2 separate regions of the Homo sapiens genome follow, and region 1 is linked to region 2. Evidence: fine-mapped expression QTL. A gene starts in region 2. The other region holds a variant in brackets. All regions are shown on one strand. Distances are between the middles of the regions.

What was found.
Region 1: its variant is fine-mapped to the expression of LINC00327 in atrial appendage (GTEx, PIP above 0.99).

Annotation. Positions count from the first base shown.
Region 1 is chr13:23,487,000-23,489,922 of GRCh38, forward strand. LINC00327 (long intergenic non-protein coding RNA 327) reads left to right here. Exons shown (of 3, transcript NR_038995.1): 3 at 1-465. Among named protein-coding and RNA genes, the nearest start is that of LINC00327, 19 kb to the left of the region's middle. The variant A/C (reference allele first, on the strand shown) is at 1,679.
Region 2 is chr13:23,467,913-23,470,835 of GRCh38, forward strand. LINC00327 (long intergenic non-protein coding RNA 327) reads left to right here and starts at 1,600. Exons shown (of 3, transcript NR_038995.1): 1 at 1,600-2,279; 2 at 2,602-2,778.

The DNA of each region.
Region 1 (2,923 bases), 19 kb after region 2:
GGAATATATTGCTTAAAATGACAAAAATAGCCAACATAGGCTGGGTGCGGTGGCTCATGCCTGTAATCCCAGCACTTTGGGAGGCTGAGGCGGACGGATCACTTGAAGCCAGGAGTTCAAGACCAGCCTGGCCAACATGGTGAAACCCCGTCTCTACTAAAAATACAAAAATTGACTGGGCGCAGTGGTGTGCATCTGTAGTTCCAACTACTTGGGAGGCTGAGGCAGGAGAATCACTTGAATCCGGGAGGCGGAGGTTGCAGTGAGCCGAGATCACGCCACTGCATCCTAGCCTGGGTGACAGAGTGAGACCGTCTGAAAAAGAAAAAAGCCAACATAGGAATTTTTAAAATAATATATAATTACCAAAAATTGGGGAAAATAGAGACAGGGAAGGCAGTTCTATAAGCGAGATAAATCTTTATCTTTTGTATCAGAAAGTCAATAAATATTGTCTGAATTTGATTGGTTATTTCCATTTTTATGAAATGTCTACAATAGGCAAATCTATAGAACCAGTAAAGAAATTAGGAATTCCTGTGGCTGGGACTGAAGAGTGAAATCACTGCAAGTGGTCAAGAGGGATCTTCTGAAGTGATAGGTGTGTTCTAAAATTGGGCTGTGGGGATGCTTGCACAACTCTGTAACTTTGCTAAAATTCATTTCATTACACATTTAGTGAGTTTTATGATATGTACATTACCCATCAATAAAGCTGTGTTAAAAAAAAGGCTGATTTTTTAGGCTGGGCGCAGTGGCTCACGCCTGCAATCCCAGCACTTTGGGAGGCCAAGGCGGGGGGATCACAAGGTCAGGAGATCAAGACCATCCTGGCTAACATGGTGAAACCCCGTCTCTACTAAAAATACAAAAAATTAGCCGGGTGTGGTGGCGGGCACCTGTAATCCCAGCTACTTGGGAGGCTGAGGCAGGAGAATGGCGTGAACCCGGGAGGCAGAGCTTGCAGTGAGCGGAGATCATGCCATTGCACTCCAGCCTGGGTGACAGAATGAGACTCTGTCTCAAAAAAAAAAAAAGGCTAATTTTTAAAAAGGTCAAAGAAGAGATGTGAAAATATATTATTTAGAGTTCTGTAGGCAACCAACAGGAATAAAAGTAGAAATGTTTTCTGGGATGATCTAGGAGTTGCTAGGGTGAGGAAGTGTGAAATGGAGGCAGCTGTTTATCAGTTATGTTTTTATCAGTTTATCAGTTCTGTTTTTCTATACTATTTCCATTTTGTTTATCAATGCATGTATTACCTCAGTTCATTATTAGAGATTTTTTAAAACTTTAGATTTCTTAATGCAGAAAAAAATGTTTCTTGTTTTTAATCTTTTAGAATTTAAATATGAGTAATGATGGCATGTGAGTAAATGAATAGAATTTATTTTTTCTCCTAAAGACCAAGGCCAAGGGGCAAACTCTCTTACAAACCACCGCTCATAACTTGATGTGGACAAGAGCTCAACTGGGCATCGCCAAAAGTCCATGCCACTCCCAAAATAGAATGGAGGCAAGGAGACTAAGCAACTGATCTTTCTGGGAATGACATTTGGTGCAGCTGTGTTAAGCGGTTGCCATGGACTAATACAGAAAACATAAATAATCTCAGAGAAGCAAGTGCCCGAGAAAAACGAGATGACACAGGAAGTTGCTAATGTTATCAGCTGTCTTC[A/C]TCTGTTTATATAAGAACGCTGCCAAAGTAACCATCTATGTGCCCAGGTTTTAAGCCGCATGACACAACCTCTTTACCCTGAGGTGAGAGTGACATGGTGGCCAATGAGAGGCCATCACTGTGGAAAACACATATTAAGACTTTTTGAGATATGAAGTAATGGGATAGATCATGAGGACTTGAGGCTACAAGCTGACGACCTTGCAGTTGGTTCAAAGAGCTTGGGGACTTTTCAGTGTAATTTTGCTAGGTGACGAATCGGAAGCTTTCACACCTGCATTCCCTTTCTTTTTTTCTTATTTATTTATTTATTTATTTGAGACGGAGTGGTGCCCTGTTGCCCAGGCTGGAGTGCAGTGGCGCAATCTCAGCTCACAGCAACCTCCACCTCCCAAGTTCAAGCAATTCTCCTGCCTCAGCCTCCCAGTAGCTGGGATTACAGGCTCCCGCCACCACGCCTGGCTAATTTATTACTATTATTATTATTATTATTATTATTATTATTATTTTTGGTAGGGACAGGGTTTCCACATGTTGGCCAGACTAGTCTTGAACTCCTGACCTCAGGTGATCCACCCACCTCGGCCTCCCAAAGTGCTGAGATTACAGGCGTAAGCCACTGCGCCCAGCATTCCCTTTCACATAAAATGCTACGTGAATGGTGGTAATAAAACAGTCAGAGCGATTCCATGCAACCCAACAGATAACGTGGTTTGTGCATTTTTTCTATCCATGAGGGAATGAGAAAGGCTATTCCTGCCTTTCCGTCAATTCCATTCAACCAAATATTTCCCATTTTAACGTGAAATCAGACCTCTCATGGGTTGGTCTGTTGTTGGAGTGACCACACTCACTTACTCCACTTGCTCCGAGGTTCCTCTCATTACCTGAACATGCACACGGGGCCCAGCAGGCACTGAGGAAAAGGTTGAGTGGCACTTGTCATCTGCATGCCTCCCAGGTGGGTCCTGCTCAGGGAGGAGTGTCCAATAACCTTGGTGACAGCCACAGCCTGGCAAGATTCATGCCGCAGACAACACGGTGCCCGAATCCCTTCCTTATAATTCCCCAGGCATGGGGTTAGTAGACAAAGCCAGTGAAGCTGATAAGAGAAGCAACATGTAAAAGGGGAGGGCACCACGTTGTCCCCTAAGACAAGAATGGAAATGGTTTAATGAGTTTGTTACTTACTATCTACATGATGTTAAAACCAATCCAGGCAGGGCAAAATAGGTCAGAGCCTTT
Region 2 (2,923 bases):
TTGGGCCAGTGCCTTTCTTAACATTTCACGGATATATTCCTTTATTTTATTTGTTGTATTTTAGTACAGTTTTGCTCTATTCAGTCATGGTCATTCTTAGTTGCTGTTGTCTTTGTAAACTTATTTAATATCTTTTAAATATTAAAAGATTAAATAAATTATTTTCTAATAAATTCTTTTAATATTAAAATATTAATTTTTGATAAGAACCTTGTTTACTCTCAAGATTAATGTAGTAAATAAAGAAGACTAAAAACTTCAGAGACTGAAAGCTGCTGAGAATGTGTAAGAGAAACCTGGTTGTCAAACGCAATCCTGATCTTTTATCAGGCATCTGTATCAATGTGGATGATCTAACCGTGGTTAACTTCATGAAGAAGGAAGATATTTGATTTTCATCTGTTTAAAGAAACAATCTGTTTCTTCTAAAAGTATATACTCTAAAACACAAACCACTTGGCTGGGAAATAAAAGATGGTTATGCTTTATCATTTATATAAGCCTGGCCTTTCTCCAAAATGATTTTGATATAGCTTACAACAAAAAACGTGTTAGGCTTAATAAAAGAAGAATGGAAATGGAAACTAAGGATCAACAGAAAAGAGTATCACAAATACGGTAATACTAGCATATGGTAATATTATTTCTGTATTTGAGTGTAAAACGTGGCTGTGAGCTTCCTGGAGGCCAAGGCAAAAATAGAGACAAGAGCAACGTGCATAATATCATTAGCAGACAGAAAGATCATGTGACTTTTTAATTTTTTTCCCGGAAACTGAATCTAAAAAGAATCGCTCTATATAATGACTCATATATATGGTTTTAAGTGAAAAAATGATGAACACTGTCCTCCATGAGAGTTTTGGCACAAATTGAAGGAGGTAAGAACTGATATTGAAGCACAACTCAGTGAAGTTAATCCTGTCAGGCTAGGTTCACACAAGAAAACTTCTGACAAAATCCTAGAATTCCGGCAAATGCAGGCATGGAATGAGAGATTCCTATTCCATCTGCCTCGTTGTGCCTGGGGCCAGGCCTGAGTGTTGAAGACAGCTTGTTCCAATGTAAGATCAAATGAGATTGTTCATAACAGGAGTCTGCAGGAATATGGCACCTCTGATTTGAAATGATGGATGATTTTCATCAGCCGTGTATCTGCTTCCTTGGCAGCACCCCAAGTGCAGACCCCAGGCTGTTTCAGTGTGTCATCTGGCAGGCCCAAACAGAGGATGTCTCAATTGTGCATGTGTAACACAGCTTTAATTCATAATTTCATTTCTGGATGGAATTTTGAGCAGATGGGCATTGCTGTCCTTTTTAATGGTAAAAAATCAATGAAAGACACCGTGGTTTTGAAATTAATGAGCACTTGAAAAATACCAGCTTTGTTTGGCTTTGCGTTTTCTTTTTTCCTCTCCTCCTAAGTTGTTTGCAGCAAAATATTCAATTGAAAACTCAACATGTCCACTGCCTCCCAAAAAAAAAAAAAAATTCTGTGGAAAGTCTCCACTAACAGGAAGAGAGAAGTTCTTCACAGTTTGGTTTTATTTTTCAATGATAGTCATTGCCTCATTTTTAAAGCATTTATAATAAATTAAGCAAGTAACACTTGTGTACCAGTTTCTAATCAGTTTCTAATGTGCCTGGAACTTGCTGGGCTACAAAGAAAAGGATCAACTATTTTTTTTCCTGCACCCAAAGATATTGCAATCTTATCGGAGAAGGGAAACTGAGGCATGTGTTACAGTTAGAGGACTAGGAAGCACTAATCTGTGTCAGACTCCAAAGTGCAAATTCAAAGGAAAGACCATTGTTGGAGGGAGTGATCCGGAAGAATTCCTAGCCCTTACCTGTCTCAGTCATGCTTCTTGCCAAAGAAAAAGAGAAATCTCCAAGTATCTTAATGCTTTCAGCGCTTCTCCAATCTGACAAATATTTATTCAGATTCGAACTGACTGCCCAAGCTTCACTGCAGCTCCTCGTTTCCTGTTAGATCTTTTTAAAAATCTTTGCTTAAAACATTGAAGGCTGAACGATGAGCAAGAAAATCTTGCCTGTGAATAAGACACTGGGAACTGCACAGAATCAACATCAGCTCACAAGCTCATCATCTCACGCACGGATTCCTGAGCACATTCTCGCATTCTTGCTCTTAATCCTCCCTTGGCGACCTTCTACTCAGACATCATCTTTTATGCAGAGAAGCAGGCACGTTTCTCATCATTAATTCTGTTCTCAGCCAGGTGTGTAGCCACAGAGCATACAGACCACAGGATGATGTGAGTACCCCAGGATGTAAATTTGTGCGGAGTAATTACAGCTCAGGCTTCTTACACAGCTTTGGCCACATCAGGACATGAAGCTGTCTTGCAAATTGCGGGTGTGTCTAAGCTCTTAAGCACATGTGAACTTTAACGCACGTGCATTCCCTACTCACATACACAATACAAGCATGCCACACACTCACAATCCAATTGGCTAACTATGGTTATTAGCAGGAAAGAACAATTAATGGTCCTTGTGGTTACAGTTTTGTTTGAATTTTCGCCTCATCAAAAATGTAACAACCAACTAAAGCAGGCTTTCCTCCTTTTTTCCTAGTGAAAGCATATTGACTTTCCTGACTTCTTATGACCACATTTGAGGAAAGGAGTAAGCACTGGAATCACCAACACAGCATGCTTACGGAGGGTGGTCACCAGCTTCATCAGCCTCCCAATTCCACGGAGCCCCTTGAAAATCCAGGAGCGCAGACTGGCAACAGTAGAGATTTAATAGGTAAGACCTTGGGTTCAATGGACAGATCTCCTACAGTTCCTGATATCAGCCCCTATCAGAAATTATATTTTACTTTGTGTATTTCACATATTTCAAATAGAAGGGGTCAAGACTAATAGTGACCAGTCTTCATCCATTTGATAAA